7 linked regions of the Homo sapiens genome follow. The protein of the gene in region 6 purifies or fractionates together with the protein of the main gene of each other region. This does not show direct contact. Each region holds a gene or a part of one and is shown on either strand. Other genes may lie near its edges.

Evidence for each region.
Region 1: the proteins of HS1BP3 (region 6) and IREB2 purify together in Homo sapiens (affinity purification with mass spectrometry; one large-scale study listed by BioGRID and IntAct). This does not show direct contact.
Region 2: the proteins of HS1BP3 (region 6) and SUPT20H purify together in Homo sapiens (affinity purification with mass spectrometry; one large-scale study listed by BioGRID and IntAct). This does not show direct contact.
Region 3: the proteins of HS1BP3 (region 6) and LONRF2 purify together in Homo sapiens (affinity purification with mass spectrometry; one large-scale study listed by BioGRID and IntAct). This does not show direct contact.
Region 4: the proteins of HS1BP3 (region 6) and VGLL4 purify together in Homo sapiens (co-immunoprecipitation; one large-scale study listed by IntAct). This does not show direct contact.
Region 5: the proteins of HS1BP3 (region 6) and DSTYK purify together in Homo sapiens (affinity purification with mass spectrometry; one large-scale study listed by BioGRID and IntAct). This does not show direct contact.
Region 7: the proteins of HS1BP3 (region 6) and DNAAF9 purify together in Homo sapiens (affinity purification with mass spectrometry; one large-scale study listed by BioGRID and IntAct). This does not show direct contact.

The regions. Positions count from the first base shown.
Region 1 is NC_000015.10:78,444,398-78,448,750, forward strand, and holds part of IREB2 (iron-responsive element-binding protein 2), read left to right. Parts: intron 1-4,353. UniProt on the Homo sapiens protein: RNA-binding protein that binds to iron-responsive elements (IRES), which are stem-loop structures found in the 5'-UTR of ferritin, and delta aminolevulinic acid synthase mRNAs, and in the 3'-UTR of transferrin receptor mRNA.
Region 2 is NC_000013.11:37,021,295-37,025,647, reverse strand, and holds part of SUPT20H (transcription factor SPT20 homolog), read left to right. Parts: intron 1-210; coding exon 211-328; intron 329-1,205; coding exon 1,206-1,308; intron 1,309-1,454; coding exon 1,455-1,613; intron 1,614-2,603; coding exon of another isoform or gene 2,604-2,617; exon of another isoform or gene 2,618-2,925; intron 2,926-3,330; coding exon of another isoform or gene 3,331-3,567; coding exon 3,568-3,637; intron 3,638-4,045; coding exon 4,046-4,200; intron 4,201-4,353. UniProt on the Homo sapiens protein: Required for MAP kinase p38 (MAPK11, MAPK12, MAPK13 and/or MAPK14) activation during gastrulation.
Region 3 is NC_000002.12:100,301,470-100,305,822, reverse strand, and holds part of LONRF2 (LON peptidase N-terminal domain and RING finger protein 2), read left to right. Parts: intron 1-2,779; coding exon 2,780-2,902; intron 2,903-4,353.
Region 4 is NC_000003.12:11,559,795-11,564,147, reverse strand, and holds part of VGLL4 (transcription cofactor vestigial-like protein 4), read left to right. Parts: intron 1-4,353. UniProt on the Homo sapiens protein: May act as a specific coactivator for the mammalian TEFs.
Region 5 is NC_000001.11:205,170,179-205,174,531, reverse strand, and holds part of DSTYK (dual serine/threonine and tyrosine protein kinase), read left to right. Parts: intron 1-2,970; coding exon of another isoform or gene 2,971-3,025; intron 3,026-4,353. UniProt on the Homo sapiens protein: Acts as a positive regulator of ERK phosphorylation downstream of fibroblast growth factor-receptor activation. Involved in the regulation of both caspase-dependent apoptosis and caspase-independent cell death.
Region 6 is NC_000002.12:20,616,659-20,620,292, reverse strand, and holds the end of HS1BP3 (HCLS1-binding protein 3), read left to right. Parts: intron 1-1,047; coding exon 1,048-1,306; 3' UTR 1,307-2,475; downstream 2,476-3,634. UniProt on the Homo sapiens protein: May be a modulator of IL-2 signaling.
Region 7 is NC_000020.11:3,404,550-3,409,430, forward strand, and holds the start of DNAAF9 (dynein axonemal assembly factor 9), read right to left. Parts: upstream 3,121-4,881; 5' UTR 3,009-3,120; coding exon 2,926-3,008; intron 1-2,925. UniProt on the Homo sapiens protein: May act as an effector for ARL3.

The sequences.
Region 1 (4,353 bases), on a different chromosome or scaffold from region 6:
TTGAGAGAGTACCTGTTACTGGGCAACAGGGCCTCTGGTGGTGTAAAGCCCCCAGGCACCCTTTATCTCAGGTCATCTTATTCACCCTTTCTTTTGTCCTTCCTGTCTGCTTGCCTTTTTAACCACAGTACTGCTTAGTCCTCCAGTAGAGCCGGGACTTAGTGTCCAAATCCTACCTTGCAGCCTTTGGAAGAAAATCCTGTATTTAATTTTTTAGGAGAGTTTTTATCATTTAGAAGAATCACAAAAAGACAAGAACATTGCAGATGGTACAGAAAGTCTCATTTTTATGTGTATACAAAAATATATGTAAATATGCTACTTTTAATAAAAATAAAGTATATGTTGTTTTGTAACCCTTTTTTTCACTTAATATATCATGAACATCTTTCCATGTCATTGAATACAGGTATCCCTTGCTATCTGAATCTACTTGGTTTCTGAGTCAGGGAGCTTGAGTTCAGGTAGAAAGGGATACCTGTACTTCTCTGTGGCTTCTAATAGCTGCACAATATTGCCTGTATGAATGCATTGTGGTTTAGTTAACAGACCTTTGAATATTGAGGCTGATAGTAACTTTTCTCTATTTATAAATAAACTTTGTATGTGCTAATACTTACATTTTTGTGCAAACTTATCATTATATAGAATTGTTGGATTGAAAGTATGTTATTTCCTCCACCCCATCACACGCTTTTATTTTTATACTTTCACTATTTACTGTTGGTTCCAGTCTTTATTTTTTTTTTTTTTTTTTTGAGACAGAGTCTTGCTGTGTTGCCCAGGCTGGAGTGCAGTGGCACAGTCTCAGTTCATTGCGTCCTCCAACTCCTGGGTTCAAGTGATTCTTCTGCCTCAGCCTCTGGAGTAGCTGGGATTACAGGCCCATGCCTTCACACCCTGCTGATTTTTGTATTTTTAGTAGAGACAGGGTTTCGCCATGCTGGCCAGGCTGGTCTCGGAACTCCTGGCCTCAGGTGATCCACCTGCCTTGGCCTCCCAAAGTGTTGAGATTACAGGCATGAACCACTGCACCCGGTCTGGTTCCAGTCTTTACCTTGGACTAAAAAGAACAAAAACTCACTCAAGTAAAAAATAGGTTGCAGTTTCCAGACATCCAAAGACAAAGGAAGAAAGCATAGTCAAGTTTCAGGGAACCAGAATTTCTAAGCCAGAGGCAGTGTTCTGTTTGTCACTTAAAGGCTGCCTGGTTTCCTTATTTTCTGTTTCTTTTTGAATATCCAGTCTTCCATCTCTACAGCCTACTTCACTTACTCATTTTTGTATAATGCCCAATATGGCCACTGCTGACCATTCTTGTATGTTATGACTGGATTACTAACCGGTTAAGAGTGTACCTCTAGGTGACTCTTTTACTTGTTTTGTTTTGTTTGTTTTGTTTTTTCCCTCAGGGTCTTGCTCTGTTGCCCAGGCTGGAGTGTAGTGGTTCGATCATGGCTCACTGCAGCCTGGACCTCCCGGGCTCAAGTGATCCTCTTTCCTCAGTCTCCCAAGTAGTTGGGACTACAAGCACATGCCATCATGCCTGGCTAAATTTTAAATGTTTTGTAGAGACAGGGTCTCCCTACATTGCCTAGGCTGGTCTTGAATCCTGGCTTCAAGTGATCCTTCTGCCTCAGCCTCCCAAAGTGCTGGGGTTACAGGTGTGATCCATTGTATCCAGCTCACCTGTTGTTTTAACCTATTTTGACTGCACTTGTCAGGAGTCTATTGCCGGTCTGGTGATCTTGCTGGTAGAGACACAAATCTGTTCATCTTGTCTTTTATGTGGACTCTTGAAAAGACTGGGTTGGGTAAGCAATGTAACAGTTTGCTTGTAATTTGTACACATAGTACATAACTTTCCAAGGATTACCTTTACCTAACATCATCCTACTAGTCCATGTATAGCCATGTGCTCACCAACCCTCCACATTTCAACTTTGTTTTTATTGCCAATTTCTATTCTAGATTAGGCCCTTTTGGTTCCAAGGAACAGACACTAGCTCGAGTGAAGAAGGATTTATTGTAATGATACAGCGCTCCCCAGGCCAATGAAATGTGGCTGTCTCTCAAGAAAATGGTGGTGGCCCAGAATTAAGGAAGTTGTTTATTATTTTCTCTTAGGAGCTTCAGATTTCTGCCCTGTTCCACTCTTCTGCTTCCTCCACTTCACTATAGACAAGCCTCCTCTGCCTGCTCACTTTGTACATGGCCTCAAATGGCAACCTCAGTCCCTAGCTTAGCTCTTAACACCTTTCCAGTTCAGTCTCTCTGTGTCCTGATTACACATTTCTGAGAGGTGAATCTAATTGCCCCAGTGTCTCCTTTCTCACAAGACTTTTGGTCATCAGCCTACCAGGGGATTGGCTTTTGCGTCGCTGCTGTAGCCAAGGAGGCCACAGGCCACCGAGAACTGTAGCAGTTTGGACAGGCACCATGAAGGACATCTGTTGTATAGTGTTAGCAAAGAATGCCAGTTTACATGCTTACCAGTGAATGAGAAGAATATGTGTTTCTGCACCTTCATCAATAGTAGATATTATTTTTCTTGTTGGCTCAATTTCTGTCAGTGAATGAAGAGAAGAAAAAAAACTTTCTTCTACATTAAATTGGGGGGTTTATTGTGAAGATTTGAAGGAAATAAGGAAATTGAGGGGATCTGAGTGCGTGGTCAGATCAGACTCTTTGTTCCCTTCAGTAGGCATGCATAGAACCCATGATTCTGGCTTAGCTGATTTTCCCTATTTCTGCTTTCCTTTCTTTTTCTTTTCTTTCTTTCTTTTTTTTTTTTTTTGAGACAGGATCTCTCTTTGTTACTCAAGCTGGGGTACAGTGATGCAGTCATAGTTCACTGCATCTTCAACCTCCTGGACTCAGGCAATCCTCCCATCTCAGCCTCCCACTACAAGAAGACACCACTACACCTGGCTAATTTTTTTTTTTTTTTTGAGACGGACTCTTGCTCTGTCACCCAGGCTGGAATGCAGTGGCACCGTCTCGGCTCACTGCAACCTCCGCCTACCAGGTTCAAGCAATTCTCCTGCCTCAGCCTCCTGAGTAGCTGGGATTACAGGTGCGTGCCACCATACCTGGCTGATTTTTGTATTTTTAGTAGAGATGGCATTTCACCATGTTGGCTAGGCTGGTCTCAAACTCCTGACCTCAGATGATCCACCTGCCTCGGCCTCCCAAAGTGCTGGGAGTACAGGCGTGAGCCACCACTCCCGCTCTGATTTTTTTTTTATCTTTTATAGAGACGGGAGTCTCCTGAACTCCTGACCTCAAGCAGTCTTCCTGCCTTGGCCTCCCAGTGTGCTAGGATTACAGGCGTGAGCCACCATGCCCGGCCCATTATTCTGCTTTTCTTTTTCTCTTGGTTCTTTTTTGTTTCCATCTGTTTTCTGCCTTCTCCCTAAGTCAAGTTCAAGGTATCACAGAACGAGGCTGAGGCAGCCTATTGGACATGACATTTGTGCTTGGCGAACTCCCTGTGCCACTGGCCAGACTGTAAATTGGTTGTCTGTTGGAAGGCTGGCTCCAGGTCCCAGCTATTCATGCCAGGATGGCAAGGCTACACAGAGCCCACCAGCAATTGGTATAGAAGGAACTTTTTAGAAAGAGGGCTGTGGTATAGGCATTCTGAGGACGTGCCAGTACAGGTGAAAAAACAAAATCTTATGCAGGAATCTGTTTTGTTTTCTGCTTCCTCAGACTCTCTCAATGGCAATGTATGTATGTATGTATGTATATATTTATTTATTTGAGACAGAGTCTTGCTCTGTCATCCCAGCTGGAGTGCAGTGGCATGATCTCAGCTCACTGTGACCTCTGTCTCCTAAGTTGAAGTGATTCTCGTGCCTCAGCCACCCAAGTAGCTGGGATTACAGGTGCACGCCACCACGCCCGGCTGATTTCTATATTTTTAGTAGAGATGCGGTTTCACCATGTTGGCCAGGCTGGTCTCGAGCTCCTGGCCTCATGTGATCTCCCTGCCTCAGCTTCCCAAAGTGCTGGGATTACAGCCGTGAGCCATCACGCCGGGCCCAATGGCAATATATTTTAAAAGAGAGAAAAAAAAGGTCAGAATTTATTTATTTATTTGAAGAAATAAGGTCTTGTTCTGTGGAGGTCAGACTTTGTTTATTGGAAATCAGCCCTATCCCGCCTGGTTCTGGTTAGAGACAGAAACACTTACTTGACTCTAGTCAGACATAGGCATGGGTTAGTCCTGTTGCCAGGCCTGATGGGATTACAGGGCCTTCTAGAACAGCTTCCTTATCTTTTCTCCAGGCCCCTAGCCTTCAGCAGGGTTAGCTTTACCCTGTAGCTATGCTGGCTGGTTTCTGCTCT
Region 2 (4,353 bases), on a different chromosome or scaffold from region 6:
TATTTAGCACAATGTTTTGGACAATTTGTCATTGAACAGTTTAAAAATATGTACTTTTAATACAAAGATAAATTGCCTAATTTTTAATATTTATGTTAATTTTGATAGAACTTTCTTTTTGCCATTAATAGTCATTATTCTTTCCTATAAAATAAATTTGTGTTTAAAACAGGTTTTCTAATCTTTACCTGTTTTCTCCTGATATTTTAGGGTAGTCAATCAGTACCAAGAATTAGTCCAGAATGAAGCCAAATGTCCGGTCAAGATGTCACACAGCTCCAGTGGCTCAGCCAGTCTGAGTCAGGTTTCTCCAGGGAAAGAAACAGATGTGTGTTTCATTAATGTTACTTCTTTGTGCCCAGTTGTTTCACAAGTAATCTGAGAAATGTTAAGAATCATTTTTGGAGGCTAGGCACAGTGGCTCATGCCTGTAATCCCAACACTTTGGGAGGCCAAGGTGGGTGGATCACCTGAGGTCGGGAGTTCGAGACCAGCCTGACCAATAGTGTGAAACCCCATCTCTACTAAAAACACAAAAATTAGCTGGGCATGGTGGCACACACCTGTAATCCCAGCCACTCGGGAGGCTGAGACAGGAGAATCTCTTGAACCCCGGAGGTGGAGGTTTCAGTGAGCCGAGATAGCGCCACTGCACTCCAGCCTGGGCAACAGAGCAAGACTCCATCTCAAAAAAAAAAAAGAATCATTTTTTGAGGAGCGGGGGTACAGTTTAGTTTTGTTTCTACTTTTACCTTTTTTTAAAATTATTTAACTCTTTATAACATGATTTTTAAATGTACACAAAGATAAAAGGAAAATTACAGTGAACACCTGTGTTCTAGTCATTTGGCTTCAACAGCTGTTATTTTCCTTTAATAGATAAGTATGGAAGAGTGGAAGCTTGCTTTCATCTTACTCCTCTGCCTTTCTCCCTAAAACTCTCTCTTCCCACCCTATTACTCAGAAATCTTTTCCTCATTCTTTATGTGTACTGTAATATATTTCATGAATCTCATGTGAAATTTTCTCTGTAATACATATAGTATTCAATCTGTAACCACTAAGAGCACTTTGCAGAGTTAAAAATCTGGGATTTATAGCAGTATTAATTTTATTTAATAAACTATGAAGTTAAATATAAATATCATCTGGGGTTTATAGCAGTATTAATTTTAACAAGTAAGCTTAATGTCATTGTCTTTTAGCAAACTGAAACCGTGTCAGTTCAGTCTTCGGTATTGGGGAAGGGTGTAAAACATCGACCCCCACCAATCAAACTTCCCTCAAGCTCAGGAAATAGTTCCTCAGGTATTACATTTCTTAGTTTTTTGCAGTCTAGAATAACAAATATTATATAATCATAATCTCTTTTTAAAACTTTGCCCCATTTTGATTTCTACAGTTCACAGAAGTTTGAATTATAAATTTAGGAAATAACTTTTATGTTCTTCTAGGTAACTATTTTACACCACAACAGACAAGCAGCTTTCTCAAATCTCCAACTCCTCCTCCTTCTTCTAAGCCATCAAGTATTCCTCGGAAATCATCTGTGGATCTCAATCAAGTTAGCATGCTTTCTCCAGCTGCCCTATCACCTGCCAGCTCATCACAAAGTGAGTCATAACTTAAATTCTTCATTAAATCTTCATAAGCTTTTGCATTAGTGTTTCTTAAGACAGCTTTTTTCAACCTGTGAAGTAGTGATATCTGAATGTACTGTGTACCCAAAATGTATAAGTTGCTAGAAGCTTCAGGCAGAGCTCTTGTTGATTGTATGTATTATGTCTCTATTGTAATTGTACTTGTTTTTCTGTATCTGTGTATACATTCTGCGTGTACCTTTCTTATAGGCTTACAACCTACACATCTCCTTAAAAAAATAACCTGGTAGTTACATGTGGCAATAAGATTTCAAAATATTTTTTATTCCAGTGTACCCTAGGATCATTTTGCATATTTATGTAAATTGTGTGGCTGATATGAAAAAAATGTCATAAGAGTTGTTGCTGCAGGTCCTATCTTTGTGTATATGTAAGAAGTCAACTAGTTCCAAGGTGGTGATACAATAAACTGAAAAACAATATTTCAAAAACACTCCTACACTCTTTTATAAATTGTTGTCAGTTACTAAAATGTGATGATAATCATAAAGCATTATTCTGAAGATACTGAAATGTAATTTTTACTACTGAATACTTTTTTTTAACATCAAGAAGAGTTATACAAGAATGCTAGCATTAGTTTGGGAGAATTTCTTCAAATTAGTAAATATCTGAAAGTACCAATTTGGGGAAAAAAGTCATTCCAGTTTTTTAGATTTTTTATAGATAGCTAATATATGCTGAAAGTTTTAGTACACTGCACAGTGATAGGGTGGTCTTCGCATTAGATATAAACATCTTCATCTCGATAGCTCAAAAGGTGTAATTTTTCTGCCTTCTTGTTTTGCACAAAGAAAAATATATAAATTTTCTGAAAGTCTTATTCACACTTCTTATGTTGTGGGTATGGATTATGGTAATCTACTGCACACAGTTGTTACTTTAAGTAAGGGTTGAGTGACAGCTTCTGGACATTCACATTTCTTTCCTTTCTTTCTGCAGGACATGAAAGCTAAAAAAGAAAACACCTCAAGAGCTTTTGGTTTTACTTTTTTGGTTTTTGTTTTTTGTTTTTGTTTTTTAAAAAATTGATAAACTGTGCATACTTCATTCACAACAGATTTTCTATACATTCTACATTTAAACAGAAGTACACAGTTACTGTTAAAGATGCAGTATTATCTCTCAGATATTTGCTTTATTACTGTTTTTTGTAAATTTGTTTGTCAGGATAAACTTGATGTGTTAGGAATTAAACATGTATATTTAGGTGCCAAATATGATTGTTAACCATATGTAACTTATTAAATATGTTTACAGTTTATCTCAGACTTTTACACTAAATAAGCAATATTTTTAAATGAAGTCTTGAATTAGTGAAATCGTAAATAACAAATTAATTTGAATTCGTTTTGAACTTTTTAGGCCAAAGGCAGCATGTAGGAAACTAACTTTTAAATGGGTATTGTGGTAGAATATAACTGTATATTTTTACTGTTACTGCAATAGCATCTTTAATGGGATTTTTAGGTGATATACTGCATCCTTAATTGTAATTGAGTGTAGCAACACTCATGTATCATGTGTAGAAATTAACACTTGCAGTTAACTGCTAAAAAAAAAAAAACTAGAACAAATTGTCAGTGCTAAGTAAGATTCCATTAACCTTATTTTAAAAGGACTGGCCATTTATAACAAACTAGCAATTTTTATTTTTCTCAATGAGCAGGATCTGGAACTCCTAAGCCATCTACTCCTACACCAACCCCTTCATCGACCCCACACCCTCCTGATGCTCAGAGCTCAACTCCTAGTACCCCTTCAGCCACCCCTACTCCCCAAGATTCAGGCTTCACCCCTCAGCCCACTTTGTTAACTCAGTTTGCTCAGCAGCAAAGGTCTCTGAGCCAGGCAATGCCTGTAACAACCATTCCTCTTTCCACCATGGTAACATCTATAACTCCAGGAACCACGGCCACCCAGGTCATGGCAAACTCTGCTGGACTTAACTTCATCAATGTAGTGGGCTCTGTTTGGTAAGTTTGCATTGATGTTCGGATTTTTTTTTTATAAAGATAGTTTCACCAATCTAAATAAATTCTTAATGTGTGAAATTAAGAACAAACCGCATATTACTCAGACTGAAAAGGAATAGTTTAGATATGGACAGAAGCTGCCTGACCATGTATGTTTTAATTTTAAATAATACATCTGTTAACTGCACTAAGATGATATCTCATCTTATCGTTTTTGTTTTTTGATACTTCATCTTGACAGCAGCTTAGAATTTCCTATTTATCTTCTGCATTACTTTCTTTGATATTTAAGACAGATAAATAACTAGTTGTGTTTGCTTAGTAGTTTTGTTTTTTAATCTGAGGAATTGTGTGGCTGATTTTTTCCTTTTACAGTGAAGTTTAATGCTTTGTCTTATTCTCCTGCAGTGGGGCCCAGGCTTTGATGAGTGGTTCAAACCCCATGCTGGGCTGTAACACTGGTGCCATAACTCCTGCAGGAATAAACCTGAGCGGCCTTCTACCCTCAGGAGGTCTGCTACCAAATGCACTGCCCAGTGCAATGCAGGCAGCTTCTCAAGCAGGTCAGAATGTTGGAAATAATAACCTCTAAAAAAAATTAAAGTATATGCTAAAGTAAAAATGTAATTTTAAGAGTAATGCTAAAGGCATTTAATGTCATTATTTCATGAAGTGTTGTATCACATATATTTCACTTAAAAAGCCTTTAAAAGTTC
Region 3 (4,353 bases), about 80 Mb from region 6:
ATCTTTTGTGATTCTGCTTTTGTGAAAGGAGAATAAGAAAATTAGTAAAACTTCACATTTATTATCAATGTAAAGTCCCATAGATGAATCACTGATTGTCTGAAGTGTATTTGAGACTTCAGGGAGCTCAGGGATGAAACTGATGATTTGTTGTCTAAAGTACTCATCATGTCTTTTGAAATGGCTGCTCTTCCAGAGGGCTGCAAGGTAAGCAATGTGTGAATAGACAGTTAGCAAGCATGAGGAGAGATGTTGGTGCTGGAGATGGAACCTGGGCACCATCAGCACAGTCATGGTATTTCAAACAATGGAGAGAGAAGTGCAGTAAGACAGGACCTGAAAATAGACCTTCACATTTACCCATCAGTGGCTGCCAATGTTCTGGAGAATTTTTATACAGAAATAATTAAAATGACATTAACAGGGGTAGTGGTTTACTTCTGGTAATAGTGAAGGAGTGAAGTCGTCATGTGAATCCAGAGGGGAAAACAGTTATAAGAACTGTATTAAAAAAAATAAAGACACTATAAAACATCCAAAAACAGAAGCTGGAGGAGAGTTTCTAAAAAAACCTGCACATGAAAAGGAAAAGAATTGTGTGTGGGTTTTTTGTTTGTTTGTTTTTTGTTTTGTCTTTTTGGTCCCTGAGTTCTGTCTATCTCCACAGCTGCAGCTGCACAAAAACAGTACTGGGACAAACACTCAGGATCACTACGTGAAAGTACCAGGAGTTCAGAGTTCCGAGTTCTAACAGAAGAGCTGGAAATTAGGGGAATCCCTAAAAGCAGAGAAATCCCGGAGTGGATGATTCCCAGCTCTGGCCAAATCCTGGCTTATTTCCAAATTTCATAGGCATCAGGGAGAACCACAAGGCTTAAAAAGGAGCCATGGAGGCTGGGTGCAGTGGCTCACGCCTATAATCCCAGCACTTGGTGAGGCCAAGGCAGGTGGATCACAAGGTCAGGAGTTTGAGACTAGCCTGGCCAATATGGTGAAACCCCATCTCAACTAAAAAAAAAAAAAAAAAAAAAATTAGCCAGGCATGGTGGCAGGCGCCTGTAGTCCCAGCTACTCAGGAGGCTGAGGCAGGAGAATCACTTGAACCTGGGAGGCAGGGGTTCCAATGAGCCATGATTGTACCACTGCACGCCAGCCTGGACGAGCGAGCAAGACTCTGTCTCAAAAAAAAAAAAAAAACAGTCAACTAAAATTGTCTCTGAGTGGGCCCAGATATTATATTTTCCACAAAGAGACTTTGAAGAAGTTATTATGCATAAGTTCAAAGAGTTAAATTGCATGCAAAGAATTGAAGGACAATATGGTACCTTTGACTTAAGAGCAATCTCAACAGGGAGATGGAAACTATAAAAAATGGAAATTCTGGCTGGGTTCATGGTTCATGCATGTATGCCCAATGCTTTGGGAGGCTGAGGCAGGAGGATCACTTGAGGCCAGGAGTTCAAGACCAGCCTGGGAAACATCACGAGACCCCAAGTCTACAAAAAAATTAGCCAGGCAGGGTGGCATGTGCCTGTAGTCTGAGCTACTCTGGAGGCTGAGGCAGATTGTTTGAACCCAGGAGTTAAGGGTCACAGTGAGATGTGATCATGCCATTGCGTTCTAGCCTGGGCAACAGGGTGAGACCCTGTCTCTAAAAAAGAAAAAAAAAGGAAATTCTAGAGATAAAAATTATCAATGCTGAAATTTAAAATTTCTAGGTAGGGTTAATAACACATTATACATGGCAAAATAATCAGTGAAATTGAAGATAGATCTATAGGAAGAGAAATTATTCAATGCAAAAAACAGAAAGAAAAAAGATTAAAGAAAAACAAAAAGAATCTTGGAAACTTGTGGGACAATATGAAGTGGTACAACGTATGTGCAATTGGAATCTCAGAAGAAGACAGAAAATGTTTGGCAAGAAAAAAAAAGAAGAAATAATGGGTAAAAAGTTTCCAAATTTAGTGGGAAACATTAATTTCAGATCCAAGAAGGTTAACTCAACTTATAAGCAATGATAAACTCAAGTCATAATCAAATGGCTAGGCTGTAAACCAAAGATAAAAGGAAAGTCTTGAAAGCAGTAAAGAAAAATGACATGGAATGAGAATGAGAAAAATGACATACAGGGAAATAATATTTATGGTTGTCATCTCATCTGAAACTGTGGAAGCTGGTTGACATTGGAACAACATATTTCAAGTGCTAAGAGAAAGTCTTTCAACTATATGTAAACCAGTAAAAAAAGAAACAAAAATAGTGTTTTTATAGATTTGAGAAAATACTGCATTCATAAGATGAAAAGAAAATGCCATGGGAAATTACTGATCCATATTGTATTTTGTTTACTTTTATTGTGGCACTTAGTATATTATGATTTGTATTGTAATTGTTTTTAGTCGTGTCTGTCTTAGCTCATGAGACTGTAAACTCCTGGAAGCCAGGAAGATGGTAATGACCTGTAACTGCTGAATGAATTTAAAGTGGATAGCCAGTTTTCTCTTAGCACGTCCCTTAGAACTCCTTTGAGCAGAACATTTCAGGTACGGTAGCTCCTGTGTTCTGACTGTAGATTGTATTTATGAGCTATTGAAGTTTGCTAAGTTTCCAGGGTAGAGAAAGTAGCGATAGAGTCATCCTTTGATGGGCTTTGTTTATTCTATGTAATGTGAAATTAAAACAAATTGTTCTAATAAATTTGTTCAGGGAAGTTTGTATTCAAGTATATAATCATGCTGGGTTTTAAAAATGTACACTTTGTCTTCGGTGAATCTAGGGACATCAAGTAAAAGCTCAGGCTCTTTCTGGATTGGGAAGAAGTAAGGAAGTGTTAAAGGAATTTCTCTACTGCCTTGCTCTGAATCCTGAATGTAACTCTGTGAAGAAAGAAGCACAGAAGGTATGAGTTCTGTTAAAGGACTTTCTCTATCAGGTCTTATTTATAGCCTTCATGTCCATGCTGAGTAACCCTTGCATGTGAAATAAACAAGAAATATAATTCTGAATGTTCGTGATAATGCAATAAAAAACGCATGGCAATAATTGTAAGGTTCATACATTGGATAACTTCTAGGTAAACATTATATTTTGTCCCTGGGTAAAGCAGAGTGTTTCATGAGACAGTGTAAACATGCCTCGATTCTGTTGACATAAAGACACATGTTAGGCAAGGTTATTATAGTTTGTGTAGAAGCTTCATAAAAGACATTATGATATATGTAAAATGTATCAATTCGGCTCTATAGGGTGACCTGTAATTTTCAGCAAAGGTTCACCAGCATAGTGCAGAAATACCTGCTCTTTTACCCATCATCCAGTCACACTGAATGTGGAAATCTGTCCTGTTAAAAAGCTTATACAATAGTTACCTGGTATTTACTTAGCATTTCCAATGACCAGCGTTTTTATGTTTTTATGTTTGCGCTTCCCTGTTTTAACACTGTTTATTGTCAACTTCTACCACGTATTTACCCTGTAATTTTTACTTACCTGTGTAGTTCTATTTTCTGGAGCAACAGAAAATGAATCAGTTCTTCCTTGTACAATTCAAACCACGTTAGATGTTTGGGAACAGCTATTATCTTTGCCTTAATGTCACCCTGTGGGCCAAACATTCTTTTCTCACAGAGTGGCGTTTCTAAGATTTCCTCTTCTGGATGTGTTCTAATGTACCCTGTGTTTTAGCATCTACATTTGACAGCCACAGTTGGTGAAATTTTACCTTCACTTGTGTTCACATTAGGGGCATGTTTATTTTTAAATACCTCGTTCCTCTTTTTTAAAAGTAAGAACTTCAGAGCAATGTTGTTTTTTATCTTCTCTTGTGCAATTGATTGGCGTTAGTCCCATTCAGTTGTCCTGACAGTTGTTCAATTGACCAGTATCACTCATTGGTTTTTGGCCATCATTTCAACTTGTCAAAATAATATTGCATCTTCAGCCTGCTATTCAGCTATCCCTGCCTGCTTTGTCCTATACGGAAACTTCCTAAGAATCTTAAAACATATCTCAACTGATTCTCATAACACTTTTCTGAGAAAGTCAGTCCAAGGTCAAAGAGATGAAGCACATTCACCAAGGTTCCTGGACCAGGGTTTAGGTCTTCTGGGTTGTTGTCTACCTGGAGCGTTTTCAGACATGGTGTTTTCCCCTGGACATTCTATGGCTGATAGATATCTTGTATCACAGACGGTACCAAAAACAATGTTAGCCTGTTCACATGGAATGTGGCTCCATCTCCAGCAGCTCTGTTGAGGCTGCTCAGAGCTGGGGCTGAGGACATTGATGTCCCTGCTGAGGGTGGTGGTGCGCATTGCTGCAAGGCCATGGATTCTAGCGCACTCACCTTGA
Region 4 (4,353 bases), on a different chromosome or scaffold from region 6:
CAGCATTGAGGAGGCTCAAAATTACTGCTTGAGCTCTCCGAATCTCCAGGGACTGCGACCTAATAGGTCCTTAGTCAGTAGTCAGCATTTGCTAAGACTGACAGAGAGGATGGTGCCGTGCCCCGAGGGGGTGCCTCCGGGCTCTGTGCATTCAGCTGCAAGAGCCTCTGTGTCCCTGTGGCCTCACCGGGGCTTCCCTCCAAGTGGCACTGCCTGGTGTCCGTGTCTGATGGGGTCTGTTGAAACTGTGGGTGGGGTAGGCCCTGGGAGTTGGGAGAGGTGGTTCTGGTGCTTGGGAATCCTGGTGAAGCTGAGAACAGTTGCCCATCTTGCCTCAGAGCCTGACATGGTAATCCTGTTTGTTTGATTCATCCATTTAACAAAATGGCACAGACCCCTGCTGTGTGCCAGGGGGTACCAGAAGCCAGTCAAGCAAGATGCAGTTTTTGTTCTCAGCACGCTCAGTTTTAGTCTGGAGGAGAGATCGCTGATGTGTCTGATGGAACCCGAGGCCAAGTTATCACTGCTGTTCATTTCAACGTTTTACGAGCGCTCACCATTTACCCAGCCCTCTGCAGAGCAGAGCTGTGGGCAGCCAGAGACGTGTGTGTGGACACTGTCACGGCCACAGGGAGCTCCCAGTCTAATTGGGGAAATGGACATGAGAAGAGAGGATTGTGCTGTTGGGCAGCAGCAGGGGCTGGAACAGAGGCGTGTGCGCAGTGCGACCCACAGGGACCCGCTCACTGCTCCCCGGGGTGGGCAGTGGACCTTTCTGCTTTGGGAAGCTCAACAGGCATTGTAATGCTGCCATGAGCCATGGCCTGAACCGTGCAGGCAGAACCTGGCTCTCTGGCCATTGCCACTGCTGTTGGGGAGTCCCTGAAGGACACGGGTATGGAGGGGAGGATTCAGCTGTAATCTCGGAGCACCCACATCCAGCCTCTGGCCCTTGATGACCTGGGGGACATAACTGTGAGCCTTACAAGCTATCTCTGCCCACATGGTCAGGGTGGGCCCTTGGCGGGCTTAGTGTGTTCTTGGATGATTTATTTCCTTGACTCTTCAGGGCTCTTGAGAATCTTGCAGTTGGTTTTCGGTCACAGTTGCTTTGCAAAAACTGAACTGCTGAACAGAGTGGCCTGACTCTCTTTACCCTGTCTCCCTCTCCCCAGCCTGGAATGGGCCTGGCTGCCCACGGCACACGTGGCAAGGGCCCCTCCTTGTGCCTTGGGGCTCCTGAGCAGCTTTCCTAGGAGGAAGAACCTCGACCCCCCAGCTATATCTTTATGGGATCCTGGCCTGGACTGAGGACAAAGCCAGGGGCCACGGGGTACCCCAAGCTGCCCATTTTCCTGGGAAGGGCACAGTGGCCCTGACCGGAGCTGTCATTTTCGGCTGGGGTTGGTCAGTCCTGCCCTCCTTGCCGTGGCTGCTGTCAGCACATGTCATTCATGTCGTAACCATTCGTGGGGCTCCTTCCTGCGGCAGCGTGGCGGGGCTGAGGCCATGCACACCAATCCGAGCTGGGCTCGGGCGCCCTGCTGAGGACACCAAGCAGCCACGTTGCCTGTGCTCCAGCAGCTCCGAGGTCTCTTCCTGGAAGTCTGTTGGGTGTCATCCTGCAGCTCAGAGCCAGGGAAATGGCAGTGGGGAGGGGGCTTCCTGGGGTGACAGCAAAGCTCTGTGTCCACAGGCAGGCAGGACGCATGCTGCAGCCCTGTGGGGTGGGCACGGTGGAAGCCTTCCTCTGTGTGGCAGAAAATGTGTCTCAGATCTCTGGGAACTGGGACAGGAAAGTTCCCAGAGGGGCATGTATGGGGAGGCTACAGAAAGTGTCCCCCCATTTCATGTTTGTGATAGCAGCTCAGGACAGACAAACACCAAGAGGGTGGCCTTGGGCAGCAGCCAGTGAGGAGAGGCAAGATGGGGTTAAGCTTCGCACATTGAGGGCTGGGCACAGTGGCTCACACCTGTAATCCCAGCCCTTTGGGGGGTTGAGGCGGCGGATCACTTGAGGCCAGGATTTCGAGACCAGCCTGGCCAACATGGTGAAACCCTGTTTTTACTAAAAGTACAAAAATTAGCCAGGCGTGGTGGTGGGTGCCTGTAATCCCAGCTACTCGGGAGGCTGACAGGAGAATCGCTTGAACCCGGAAGGCGGAGCTTGCAATGAGCCAAGATCGCGTCACTGCACTCCAGCCTGGACGACAGAGTGAGACTTTGTCTTTAAAAAAAAAAAAAAAAAAAAAAAAAGTTTGGCGCAGCCAGCCTTGGGGGTTGCTTTCAGATAGGAGAGGTGGTGGGAGCCCTCTCCCCCGGGGCAGCCTCTGTCTGAGGACAGTCACAGGTGGGTGGGACAGCGGGTGAAGGGGTTAGTGACAGGGCTCATACTGGCCCTGCCACAAATCCGCAGCGTAACTTCCAACAGGGTGTTTCTGGCCTTCATTTTCCCCATCTGGAAAATAAGGGTGTGGGGGAGGGGAGCCTCGGGATCCCATAAACGCTCACCATCTGGAGGCCTGGGGCCCGTTCTAGGTGGACGAGTCCCAGCCTGCACTCAACCACAGAGGCAGGGGCAAGATGCCTGACTCCAGCTGGGGAGGAGGGGTGGTGGAGCCAGTCCCACGAGGGCTCACGGGCCACCCTGCAGCCTGGGTTGTGGGGAGGAGGAGAGGATGCCCAGACACTGAACATCTTCACATCTGCAGGTGACCGGTTAAGGCAATTCGCCCCAGCTCAGGTCAGGAGATGCCCTGAAGGTGGTCTGATACCAGTCAGCCAGCCTGCCCTGCTGGTCCCTTGTTAGAGAGTCTCTTCTGAAGTGGCCTTTCCTGCCTTGGATAGACTGACATAAAGGCTGGACAGTGAGCTCATTTCTTCATCTTCCTTGATTCCCCCTCCCTGTGCTCGAAATGTCTCCCCAGTTCCCCACATTTGCGTGGGTCAGGACACGCTCGCTGCAAAGAACAAGCCGGCTGAGCACAAAAGGGAGTTTTATTGGGAGGACCCTGGGGGGGGGTCTCCTAGAGCCCAAGGTCATGGGTGCAGCCAGGCTCAGGAAGGGCCTGGCCATCTCTGAGAGCTGGACAGGGGCAGGGCCCTCCTTCCTCCTGGCTCTGTGCGTGTCCAGGTCTCGGTATTCTGCTCTCTTGCTGCTGCTTGACCCCTGTGGTCAGCCAGTGTGAGATCTGCTCCAGGCCTCATCTGTCGGTCCCCAACCCCCTTTCCGAGCCTGTCTGCTCAGCATTGTGAAGTCTCTCACCCGAGGCCCTGTCCACAGGCAGAACGTGGACATTCAGCCCAGCTCCACCTGCCCGGGTTCTCTCTGCGCTGCCACCTGTGCACACCATGGAGGCCGTACGAACCCTGGGCAGCTCTGTCCCGCTGCTAAGTGTCGGGCCACTAAGAAACCCTGAATTCTTGGTTGGTCTGCTGTTGCTAAGCCACATCCCCCCCTACCCTGGCATGTGTCGCTTCTTGTTAGACCCAAGCACAGGTCCTTGTGTTCAATCCCAGTTCATCCTTGTGGATCCACATTTTCATCCTAGAATCCACTTTCACCATTCCCAATCACTGTCGTCTATCATGAGAAGGTCTGGCATGCAAGCCTTTTGTGTCTTTATACCAGCTACTGCTCTAACTTTAATGGAAAGGGCTGGCTGGGGAGGATAAGGCCCAGCGTCCCTCTGGCTGACACTGCTGTCACCATTGGTCCCTGTGGGGTGATTTCAACCAGCTCCTTGCTGGCTGTCCTGGAACTTAGCCCACATACTCCACCACCTTGTCCTCGGGGGTATTGGAAGATACTTTTCCTGGGGGAACCTGAGGAAGTTCTGTTTAGTTCACAAATATTTTCTGTCCCAGGTTCCACACCAAAGCTGGGGGGCCAGACATACTGCCTGGTGTGCATGGTCTTACGGGAGCACCTGGACAGACCGATGCACTTGCTGAATCTTGGTGGGTTAGGGGAGCAGGAGTGAAAAGCGGTGGTGGTGGGGCGGTGGCCAGTGAAAGGCTTCAGAGAGAGATCTGAACAGGGCTTGAAGGAACAAGGGGAGTTTGCCAGGCAGACAGCGTGGGGGTGGGGGTGAAGGAGAGAGTGAGGCTGTGCACAGGGCAGATCGGGCTGGGGTGGGATGTGTGCCGTTCCACACTTAGGCATATTTCCTCCATTTCCTCTCTGTCCCGATTTGTAGGTCATCACTGAGGCCAACTCGAGCTGGCTTTGGCTCAAGCAAAATGCTTCCAGTTAATTGCCGTGTATTGAAGTGTCCTGGATGGCTCCAGGCACACCCGCGGCTCAGTGGACATGATGGGAAGGGCTCTGGGGACGTTAACGGGAGAATCGAG
Region 5 (4,353 bases), on a different chromosome or scaffold from region 6:
TTTTTTTTTTTTTTTTTTGGAGACGGAGTCTCACTCTGTCACCCATTCTGGAGTACAATGGCATGATCTCAGCTCACTGCAACCTCCTCCTTCTGGGTTCAAGTGATTCTTCTGCCTCAGCCTCCTGAGTAGCTGGGACTACAGGCTTGTGCCACCACACTCAGCTAATTTTTGTATTTTTAGTAGAGACAGGGTTTCACCATATTGGCCAAGCTGATCTTGAACTCCTGACTTCGTGATCCACCTGCCTCGGCCTCCCAAAGTGCTGGGATTACAGGTGTGAGCCACCTTGCCCAGCCTAATTTTTGTATTTTTAATAGAGACTGGTTTTGGCCATGTTGGCCAGGCTGGTCCCGAACTCCTGGCCTCAAGCAATCTGCCCACCTCAACCTCCCAGAGTGCTGGGATTACAGGCATGAGCCACTGTGCCTGACTTCCAAAATTCATTTCTTTAATAATGAATTTACACCTATGAGCAAATAAAGTCAGCTGGTCTCTTAAAAACAGTATTGGGCCAGGCATGGTGGCTCACGCCTATAATCCCAGCACTTTGGGAGGCTGGGGCAGGCAGATCACCTGAGGTTAGGAGTTCAAGACCAGCCTTGCTAACATGGCAAAACCCATCTCTACCAAAAAATACAAAAATTAGCTGGGCATGGTGGCACATGCCTTGTAATCCCAGCTACTCAGGAAGCTGAGGCAGGAGAATCACTTGAACCCAGGAGGCAGAGGTTGCAGTGAGCCAAGATCGTGCCACTGCGCTCCAGCCTGGGCGACAGAGCGAGACTTCATCTCAAAAAAAAAAAAACAACCGTATTGGTCTTACAAATGGACTTGGCAGCTTTGGCTGATGTTTCTGTTGTGCACACAAAATGGTCCTTTAAGGAAAACCTGAAAATTTATTCTAGAATTTTAAGATAATCCATCAGAAAAAACAAACAAAATTCTTCCTGAAATTTCTAAACAATACTTTGGTTTTGAATATTTAGGCTTTCCTTTCATAAATTTGATTGGTTGATTTATATCTTTTAAAAAATATGTCTTTAGGGCAGCTTTGTAATATAAAAAATATTTCCACCTATAATTCTTTACTTTAATGTAACTGTTTTCTTTTCTTTTCTTTTTTTTTTTTTTTTTTTTTGAGACAGTCTCATTCTGTCACCCAGGTTGGAGTGCATGGTGTGATCTCAGTTCACTGCAGCCTCCGTCTCCTCGGTTCAAGCAATTCTCCTGCCTCAGCTTCCTGAGTAGCTGGAATTATAGGTGTGCACCAGCATGTCTGGCTAATTTTTGTATTTTCAGTAGAGACGGGGTCTCCCCATATTGGCCAGGCTGGTCTTGAACTCCTGACCTCAAACGATCTGCCCACCCCAGCCTCCCAAAGTGCTGGGATTACAAGTGTGAGCCACCACACCCAGCCTAATGTAACTGTTTTCCTTTCCTTTTAGTCTTTATCTCATTGTTATATGTGATTATAATGTTGTCATTTATGCAGTTGTATGTTCTATTTTAAACCTTAAAATTTGTTACTTACCAACTTTTTGAATATGCCTGACTGAAATGATTCATACTGTAGCATGTGTGACTCAGGGTAGTGAAAGGGGGTTTGTTTTGAATAGCAAGATGAGCATCAGACTAGTCTTCCAACCAGAAAACATTCCATGCAACTTGAGACACAGATGAAACAGCAAATTTCTTCTTGGCTTGGGGTTGGATAAAGGGTGGATTGACTTATGTAGTGTTTGCTAAAATGACAAATGGTGAGATGCTAAAAGCACTTTGAGCTTTAGGGAGTTCAAAGTGGCCAGGCAAATTAAAGTTATGTGACCTATCTGAGAATATAGCATAGTTCTTTGTGAGAAAAGAAAGTGAGATATTTGTGCTTTGTTGGAAATAAAAAAGATTTTAAAAACTCAAGGCTGGGCACAGTGGTTCACACCTGTAATCTCAGCACTTTGGGAGGCTGAGGCGCAGATCGCTTGAGCTCAGGAGTTCAAGACCAACCTGGGCAACATGGCAAAACCCCATCTCTACCAAAAAAAAAAAACCCAAAAAAGAATGAAAATTAGCTGGGCGTAGTGGCTCACACCTGTAGTATCAGCTACTTGGGTGGCTGAGGTGGGAGGACCACTTGAGCCTGGGAGGTTGAGACTACAGTGAACCTTAATTGCACCACTGCACTCCAGGCTGGGCAACAGCACAAGACCTTGTCTCAGAAAAAAAAAAAAAACCACAAACAAACAGAAAAACTTTTATCAAAAATACCTACTGCTCATGCTGGGTGTGGTGGCTCACACCTGTAATCCCAGCACTTTGGGAGTCTGAGGCAGGTGGATCACTTGAGGTCAGCAGTTCAAGACCAGCCCGGCCAACATGGTGAAACCCCATCTCTACTAAAAATACAAAAATTAGCCGGGCGTGGTGGTGCGTGCCTGTAATCCCAGCTACTCGGGAGGCTGAGGCAGGAGAATTCACTTGAACCCAGGAGGCAGAGGTTGCAGTGAGCCGAGCTCGTGCCATTGCACTCCAGCATGGGTGACAGAGTGAGACTGCATCTCAATCAATCAATCAATAAACCTGCTGCTCAGATAGGGTAAGAAATAAAAACAGCATAATCATCTGAAAGAAACGAAATTGTGTATCTTTTAGACTTCAGACAAAGTAAATATTCAACATCTGATAACTGTTAAGGACACAAACTTGAGCATATTTGTGTTGAGTTCTTTTATAACTCTAAAATATGCTAGAATTCTATGGAGGATTGATTCTGAGTTTACAGACCCTTGAAGACATCAGGAGTCTGTGTACCTACAGTGGTAATATATTAATATGTGTGAGTCCCTAGTTAACCGTTTACACCTGGAATGCCAGGCAAAGTAGACAATGTCAGAGACACAGAGGAACAACCTGTGCAATGGATGGAAATGCAGTAGATGGACATATGCTCTTGTGTGTTTGGAACCTTCACAGGAAAGAAGCAGAACACAAAGTGGAAAGTGCAGACGAGGCAAAGGACCTGTGGAAGGTTTGTTTCTAAACCTCAAACCTCAAAGATCTTTTTTTTTTTTTTTTTTTTTAATTGAGACAGAGTCTTGCTTTGTCGCCCAAGCTGGAGTGCAGTGGGGCGATCTCAGCTCACTGCAACCTCCGCCTCCTGGGTTCAAGCCGTTCTCCTGCCTCAGTCTCTGGAGTAGCTGGGGCTACAGGCGCCCACCACCACACCCGGATAATTTTTGTATTTTTAGTACAGATGGGGTTTTGCCATCTTGGCCAGGCTGATCTCAAACTCCTGACCTCAAGCGATCCTCCTGCCTTGGACTCCCAAGGGCTGGGATTACAGGTGTGAGCCACTGCGCCGAGCTTAAAGATCATTCTCGAAACTCACTTTAGCAAACTTGGGTATTTCAGTTAGGATTAGGTTCAATTGTAACAGATCATCAAACAAACAAACACAAAAAAACCAGGAACTTAAAGATAGAGTTTTTGGGTTTTTTTTTTTTTCCTTACATGAAAGAAGTCTGAAGCTAGGTAACTGAGAGCTGGCATGGCAGTTCTGTGATCACCAGAGACCTAAGCTCCCTCTTTCTTTTGGTGTCATCATCTTTAGTGCTGGCTTCCACCATCAGGTTTGCCTTAGGGCTGCTGAGTGATCGCTGCTGTTCTAGCTGTCACATCTGTGCTCCAAGCAGGAAGAAGGACAAGGCCAAAGGACATATTTCCTGGTAGAATCCACCCCCTGTACCCTAAAGGGCTTTCCTGGAAACCCCACCCACTTATCGGATACCCCTATCTGTAAAGGACATTGCCTTCACTTATAACATGGAGACTAGATATTGGATAGGCAAACCTTGGTCTTTGCCATACCAAGTGATCGATCATATTCCTAAAGGTATTTCTTAGACTTAGGTTGCTAAGACTTCGGGATATCTACAGACTCAGAACAGGACAGTAATAATGTTTGGTGAACCTGGCTTTTCGTTTCCTGCTTAATTGATTAATTCAACAGTATTTAGGACTTACCACATGCTAGGCACTGGAGCTACGATAGTAAGCAAAATAGACCCAGTCCCTGCCCTCAAAGAGTTTACAGACCCATGGGGGAAAGAAAGGTTTTAAAGAAGTGGATTATAAATATGTTGAACCTTAAGAAGAGGGAAGTAAAGTGTGCTTGGTTGGGGCTGTGTGATAGGAAAGGCTCTATAAGGATATGTCATAACATATACATTGAAACTTAAAGGATGCTTAGGAGTTAGCCAGGTCAGAATGGCAGGGATGGAGGTGTCAGAGGAGAGCAAGAGGGGGAGGAGTGCCCCAGGTCGACTCACTCCCAGTCTGATAATTTCCATTACAATT
Region 6 (3,634 bases):
CAAGGCCCTTTGCCTCTCTGCACCTCAGTATTCTCAGCTGTAAAACGGGGCTAATCTCTGCGACCACACAGTGTTTGGAGATTATTGAATGGGTTAATGAATGTGGAAATGTCTGGCCATCACGGGTGTTCAGCACAGAGCTGAGTGGGTGGAATGGATTGAATGAGTCTTCCACTGTGCATCTGGTCTCCAGAAATCAAGTTCTGGAGAATCAGTGGCCTGGCCTGTTTCTTGCCCTCAGTACCCAGGGATGGTCCTGAGTGACCGTAACACTGCCAGGGCTTTTTGCCCACCCACCAGTGGGAGATTAGAGGTCTGGGGTCATGACAGAGTCTTGGTGGGCCCTGGCCGAGGCCATCCTCAGCTCTCACTGGGTTCCGTCTGGCACCCGTGTGGCCCACAGCGGGGCACTGTGGGCGGGCCAAGCCTGTACCACCATGGCTCAGCGCCCCTGGTTATTCTTTCTCTGGCTGAACTTGCTTTGGATGAGGGCTCAGCTTCTAAGGGCCGATGTCCTGTTCCTTCCAACAAAGGCACTGTCACATACCATCCCCTCGAGGTCACTCGGCCTCCTGGGACTCCAGCGTCCTCATCTGCGTGATGGAAGCACAGTCATGCCTCCCCAGAGTGGCGTTTTGAGGATAAGATATGATAACGTGTCTGAAGTGCTGTACAGAGCGGGAACTCTGTACATAGTAGCTGGTGGTTATTTCTGAAGGGATTGGAGGGAAAGCCCCCTACAGAAGGCAGCGTGTGTCAAGTGGGGTCACCTGAAGAGCAACTCTCAGGAGGCTGCGTGGGGCCTGCCCTGTGCCTGCTTTGCTGTGGGTGGGAGGGAAGGAGAGCCCTGGCCTTCGTGTCTCCTCTGGGCAGGATGGGTGGAGGGGCCAGAGTGGAATGGGGCAGAGCAGGGCGGGGCCTTGACCTGGCCGAGGCTGGGCTCCCTGCCGCTGCCCAGCCCCGTGTGGGCACTGGCATTGCCTGGGGTCTTGTTCCTGTCACGGGGTGGCAGTGTTATGCTCAGGGTTCCTCCCTGTGGTTCCCTAGAGTTGAAGAGGACTTGGACCAGATTCTGAACCTGGGAGCTGAGCCCAAACCCAAGCCCCAGCTTAAGCCCAAGCCACCAGTGGCAGCTAAGCCGGTGATACCCAGAAAACCAGCTGTTCCCCCCAAAGCGGGCCCGGCTGAAGCTGTGGCTGGGCAGCAGAAGCCGCAGGAGCAGATCCAAGCCATGGACGAGATGGACATCTTGCAGTACATCCAGGACCACGATACACCAGCCCAGGCCGCCCCCAGCCTCTTCTGACCCTTCCATGCTGGCCCCTGGCCCAGCAGGCCTGTCTGTGGGGACATCGGTGTGAAGGGAAGGGACTGGGCCCTGCAGGGTCAGAACCTCCCCACCCCCAGGGGAGGCCAGGCAGAAGCCTGGGTCACAGCACCCAGAACTGCATGGTTCCATTTTCTCCGGGGCTGTGGGGCCAAAGTAGAAGCCTGCGGGCTGCGGGAGCGGCTCTCACCCTAGGAGCCAGAGCCCAATGTGTCTTATTCCCCGTGGACATGAAGGGGAGGGAGGGTGTGGGGATGCCTTGCCAACCAGAAGCCCAGCCCCAAGGATGAAGCAAGACATGTGGGGCCGTAGCGAGGTGTCACATGGGGCAGGGAAGCTTCATGCCCACGGGTTCTGCCAGCCCCAGCACAGACCCAAACTGGGGCTGGGCCTCTATCCCTCCTCTGCCTCTGTTCGCATAGTAAGAAGGAGTGACCGGTATCCTCCCCTTCCCCTACCCTAAGCTGTAGCCTGGGTGACTGACTGGCCTGGGCCTGGGGTGGGGACGTCCCCAAGCCAAATTACTCCAGGGCCTCTGCTCCTCGTGGCTGCCAGGGGCCTGCAGGGTCTGGGTGGGTCTCCCAGGAGAGGAATACTGAGTGGGAGATCGGCTGTCTGGAGTGTTCTGATGCAAGTCTCTCTCTCCTGAGCCTCCTCTTGATGCAAGCTCTAAAGGGAGAAGTCAGGCCCTGCCTCTCCAGGGTATAGACGGCCCTGCTAGGCCCCAGTTCTTCCTCCTTCCCCCTTTCCCAGGAAAGGCCAGCCCAGTCCATGGCCTTCTTGGGCCTCTGGGCACAGAGCCAATGTTCGTCATTGCAGCTCTCAGCAAACTGGGTCATAGCTTTCCCCACAGCTCAGCCTGGGGCCTGGGCAGGGCTCCCAGCCTGCACCGCCTCCCACTGCCAGTGGGGCATGATTCTCTCAGGCTTCTGCCCCGAGGCCTTCGTCGTCCTCAGGGTCTGGACTTGGTCAGTGGCCTTTCACCAGTGGAGCTGCCTTCCCAGGGAGAAGGAGCCGTGCGCCAGGGCAGGGCCCGTGCCTTAGACTTCTCCCGACCCCCAGAGCGCTGGTACACAGGTCTAGGCACCACACAGTGCTTTGGAAATTCTCAGTGAATGATGTTTAATAAAGCAAAAAATGTCAAGGTGTCTTTCTTGGATATAATTCTTCATGTTCAGAGCTAGTTTTTTGTTTTGTTTTGTTTTGTTTTTTAATGAAACAGTAGTTTTAAAGGAAATGCAACCACTATTGCTCCTTGGCCCTGTCCTGCCTGGCAGAAGCATTGAGCGGGTGGGACTAGGACCTCAGACCCTTTTCTGATAGACACCAAAGCCAGCCCTGAGGGAGCCCCCGGCTGATGGTGCGGGTGGTTTGCAGCCATCAGTGTTGAGTGTCTCAGCTCCTGGCCCGTGCCAGGACCTGTCTGCTCTGTCCTGCATCTGATCACGTCCCTCTCCAGCTGTGGCGCCCTGTCCTGAGCAGCTTCCCCTCCACCAGTGCTAGAGTGAGAGGAAACAGGTGGTTTTGGGGTCGAGAGCTGACTCCCTCCTCCTCCGTCTTAACCCAGGCTCAGAGGGTCAGCTCCCTCCCCAGGGCTCTGAGCCAGCTCTGGGACAGCTCCAGCACCGGCTCCACCCATTTGCCTTCCCCCTTCACACCCGCCCCTCCTTCCCAGCACTCAGCCCCGGGCCCTGCATCCCTTGCTGACTGCAGCGGAAGGTCTCAGTAGGAGTGGGGAGGGGATGGGGCCAGGTCTTCCTCCGAGAGGTGGCTCCAGCTCTCCTCTGGGCTTTGTCCCCTCCCTGCCCTTTCTGCACCCTGATGCTGGCTCCCTGCCTCCTGCTCCCCACCTGCTTTGGGTCAAGTGACATAGGAGCAGAGGGCACAGCGGGGTAGGTGGCCACAGGGGCTGGTGCTCTGCTTGGGGTCACTGGCAGAACCTGGCCTGCCCGTTGTGTATTCATCCACTGTGGACGCCACCTCCTCAGTGGTCTGGACTCTCTGGACACCATCACAAAGACCCCCAGATATTGATGCTCCAGTATCTGTGGCTTGTTCTTCACCCACAGGACTGCGACTCATGGCCAATCAATGATCCTTGTCGCCTGATAAAGCCTGTGCCTGTGACCCATTCCAGCCTGTGTTAGTGATGTTCTTTTCTGTGCCTAGGCTGATGGCAGACCACCAGGGAGGGGAGAGGGGGAGAGGATTGTCCTTTAAAACAATGGACTCAGCCAGGGAAGCTGCCCTGCCCCAGTCACCCAGGCTGCTGCTTAGGGTAGGGGAAGGGGAGGATTCTGGTCACTC
Region 7 (4,881 bases), on a different chromosome or scaffold from region 6:
ATTATTGTTCTTTCGGCCGTATTTCTTCCTCAGTACTTATGACTCACTATTCTATATTATGATTTCTACTGTTACTGTCTCTTCCCCTTTACAAAAGAGTTATTTGAGGGCAGGGGACTGCTGTATTTATCTGACTCTACAGCACCTAACAGAGTACTTGTTGCATAATTTATATAAATAAACAGTGAAATTTAAACTATTAAAGAAGTTTCAAGCAGGAACAGATCGCTCTACAGAAAAACATTTTGAAGTAGAAAGTATCTTTCAGCTAGATTTCCACTGGTTCCTTAGCATTGATCCAGATAGGTTAGTTTATACCTTGGTAATAAGTCCAAAATCCCGGTGGTGTTTCACTTCTTGCTCAACCTACCTGTCAAGCATAGGTCACCTGGAAGCTAGCTCTGGGGCCTTGACTGATGGGTGGCTGCCATTTGCAGCCCCAACAGCTACCATGACAGAAGGAAAGAGAATGGAAAACTACACAACAGAAATTTGTACCATGAAAGGCTACACAGTATTCCCACGCATTTCACTGACCAAAAGCAACTCTTAAGGCCATACCTAACTTCAAAGAAGCAAGCAAGTAAAATTCTACTACATGCTCAAGAGACAGAAACCAAAAATACCTGGTAAGACTGATGACTATCACATGCTTAAAGAGAAGCCTCTCATTCTGAGTAACAATATTTTAATTCTTGATCTCCATTCTCCATCTGTGAAAATGAACTACCGTGCTAGAACCATACACTTGCAGAGTACTATCTATGGGTCTTAGGAATGTCACTTCACCAGTTAGGTTTGCCCCTTCCATCACTCAGCAGTCAGCAGCAAAGCCATATATGGGTGACAGGAAAGTGCTAGTAACATTCAATGTCAAGAGTAAGGGAAAGGCTTGAATGGGCAAGAAAAGCACGTTCAATCATGTAGAAGTGGGGAAAGGAGGGAAGCCTTCAGCAAATTTCTTTCACCAAAGGTATTGGGGGCAGCTAGGCCTTGGGGTTCCTTGCACTATTCCTTGTCTGAAATCAAATTTTATTCAAACCACTTGATAGAAGATTTGGAGTTCGGGTATGATCAGTAAAGTGAGCCAGCATACTTCTTTGAACATAGAATCACTACCTTTAAAAGAATAAATAAAAAGCACATGGCCATGCTACTAAAAACAAGAAAGGCAGCATTTAAGAGACAGATTCTAAGGTAGAGATGATTTTTTTCCCCCTAAAGATCTCAACAGACTCAAATCCAAATTCCTAAGCTCAAGATGATCTGGGATAAACCTCAAGTCCACACAGAGCCTAGATTTAACGGATGGCTGTTCTAAAGTATCCTATGCAATGTCTATACAAGTTCAAATACTTTCTGCTTCAGACAGTGAAACTGGCAGAAATGTTGCAAAGGATTGGAGATGCGTTACTATAAGCAGTTAAACTTGGAACTGTAAAGCCCACAAGGAATTACACTGAAGGGCAGAGCAGGAGTTCAAAAATGTCACCTGACAGATTCGAAGCAATTTAGGACTCCTAAATGCAATGTTTCATTGGTATCTACCCCCCACCTTCTCTATCCTTTATTTGTTCAACAAACATATACTGGATTCTGGGTTGTGGAAAGGAATGCAGGGAAGTAAAAAAGAAACAGGTTTCTAAGAATCAGTTTCTTGTTCTCCAATAATTTGGTCTAGTTAAAGCAAACAAACAACCCCAAAAATCAGATCAGCAAGCAAAGTTAAAACATATGCCTTAAGTACCATAACAAGAATATAAGAAAACTGTTTTAACATGTAGATTGGCAACCTCCTTTCAAGGGAACAATATATTTGCTTTGCTATGTGGCTAGAATAAGAAAAAGCAAACAACAACAAAACCCTCTCCTGTTTTAATGACAGTTTAGCAGTACCAAAGCTCATCGCTCGCATTCCCCCTCTCCCTCTCCTTCTCAAAGGTCTCTGCTGCAACCCCTCCATCATTCCAACCTCCACACTGCGCCGGCGCCCCACACCAGCTCCATCACAAACAATGCCCAGACCAACAAGATCAGCACCAAACGCATAGGGCACAGAAATCGGAAACGGATCTTCCTATATCTAAAGGGGGCGGGGAACGCTCCCCACGATCACCCCCTCCCCATACTGAGGTAGCTTGGGACTGTGTCTCTACGGTAAGGGGCCTGGCGTCCGCCGCTTTCGGAGGTTCTAGGCCTCTTTCCCCTATTTATCCAGTTTTTCCTCCTGCGTCCCTAATACCTCTACTTCCTCCCAACCCGAGCTCCCTATTGTGGAGTGAGGGGGCGTCGCGATGCAGGCTGAGGCAGGGGGAGCTGGGGAAACGCGCGACAGGGGAGATGCTGTCATTATGTACGTAGGGGGCGGGGGACACTCTTTAAGGAAGCCGTTGTCAAGGGCAAAGGCTCTAGAGACCCACGGGAGGGGGCTTTCTAGGTAATCCATTTGGGGGTTCTACACGAGGGAGCTATTGTGTGTGTGGAGGTGTGAGGTCTGTAGAGTAGCAGTTTCTGAGGGAAACATTCCCTGGGGAAGGCGAGTGAGTTATTCATAGGGAAGCCTCTGTGGGGTTCTGTGTAGAAGAATCCTTCCTGGGAGAAACGTTCTATGGGGGTGAGGACGTCATAACAGTGTCTTCACAGGGAATCGCTGTCCCTAGGGAAGCCATTGTGGGGAAACCGTTGCAGGGTTGTCTGTGGGGGAGCCATTGTGGGGAAACCGTTGCGGGGTTGTCCAAAGGGGAGCCATTGTGGGGCCTCTACAGAGGGCGCCGTTCCTGGGAAAAATTCCTCCCTGAGCCGTTCAGCAAAGAACCGTCCCGAGGAAGCCATGTCGGACCACGCCCTGCGGCGGGAGGCGTCGCCGGACCCCGACAGCCCGCATCCCCCGCCCGGCCGCCCCTCGGCTGCCTCTGCCCCGCGTACCTGACGGAGGGTGACCCGCGGCTGGAGCCGCCAGGGGACCGAGCGCGGGGCAGCCCCTGCCGGCGCGGGGGGTACACGTCCATGGCGGCGGACGACTGGCGGCGGAGGAGGACGGTGCAGCTGCGAGGGTCTCAGTTGCCCGCAGGGCGGCTCCACGCTAGCTGCGGCCGGGCGGGGCGGCAGGGCGTGCCGGGTGGGAGGGGGCGCGGCGCGCGGGCCCGGCGGGGGCGGGGGCGGGGGCGTGGAGGGGGCGCGCGCACCGAGAGCGGATGGGGGCGTTGGGAGCGGCTGGAGTTGGGGGTCGGCGCACGGCCACAGGGACCCCACTTCTTAAGCTGCGAGGCCGCCGGACCGGATGTTGGGAGCGCGTGTCCGCAGGGTGAGGGTTGCCACAGCGCCGCCCGGCCTCGTCCTCAAGCCCGGCATCATAGAGCGGGGCTCTGCGCGGCGCCCCCCGGCCACGCACACGGACGCGCCCGGGGGCGGAGCCTCTCCCAGCCCGGCCCCGCCCCTCCGCCTCTGCCCGCCCCGCCCCGCCCGACCAGCCCCGGCCTCCAGCGAAGTCTTCCGCTCCGGCGTCAGGATCCAGCGCACCTCCCCAGTACCCAGCGCACCTCCCCAGTACCCGGCTCGCTTCCCTGTTCTCCGGAACGGTGTCTTCCCGCTTCCTGGTCATCAATTCCGCACCCACCCTTCAAACATCCAATAGATTCCTAGCCGGCCTCGGGTTAGCGCAGCAGTGCGCACCCAGCCCTGCGCAGGGCATGAGCGTTAGAGGCGCACAGGATCCCAGAAGACCCCTAACCTTTACTGTTAAGATCCTAGCTCTACCGGTTTCTGCAGGGACATGTACAAGAAACTTGGGAAATACTGCACTGATAGTTGCCAGGAGTCCTGTATATACAGGACGTATTTAATGATTATTGGCCTGCGTCCTTCGTTGACCTCGTCGGAATGCCTTAAATGTCCTGTATTCATCTTTTTACACTAAATTGCAATAATTAGAGCTATTTTTCTCCCACAGTAATTGGTGCTAGATCACTTAAATTACAACACTGGCTGAAAATCCTTCCTACACTAATGAAGATTTGGACAATCCCTATGGTGTCTCCTTCAGGTTTGGCTGAGGGAAGACCAGAAGGGAGTAGGAATTTAAAGTGCTCGTCTTTCATATTCAAGAAAGGAAAATACTTTTTTAGCTCAAGTCCGGAGTCGTGAACAAATAACCACCATTATTTAGAGATAACTTCTCGTCGGTGCAGCAGCTCTGAAAATCAGCCAATCAGCGATAGCCTCACTCCGGTAACTATGCTTCTTAGTAAATCAATGACAACCCCACGCTTCTGAAAGTCAGCCAATCAGTGACCGCTCTAAGCCTCCGACAATAGCCAATCAACAAGTGCCTGACACCAGCGACCAGGCTTCCGAAAGTCAGTGGGTACTCAGCTGCCGCACTCCACTTCTGATTCGGAAAGACAGCCAATCCCTGAAGGCGAATATTTCCAAAACCATTTTTTTTTCTTTCCCAGACTGAGTCTCATTCTGTCGCCCAGGCTGGAGTGCAGTGGCGCGATCTCGGCTCACTGCAACCTCTGCCTCCCGGTTCAAGCGATTCTCCTACCTCAGCCTACCGAGTAGCTGGGATTACAGGCTCCCGCCACCACGCCTGGCTCATTTTTGTATTTTTAGTAGAGACGGGTTTTGCCATGTTGGCCAGACTGGTCTCAAACTCCTGACCTCAGTTGATCCGCCTGCCTTGGCCTCCCAAAGTGCTGGGATTACAGGCCTGAGCCATCGCGCCCGGCCTTTTTTTTCTTTTTCTCCTTTTTTTTTGGAGACAGAGTCGCACTCTGTTGCTCAGGCTGGAGTGCAGTGGCGTGATCTCAGATCACTGCAACCTCTGCCTCCTGGTTCAAGCGATTCTTGTGCCTCAGCTTCCCAAGTAGCTGGGATTAC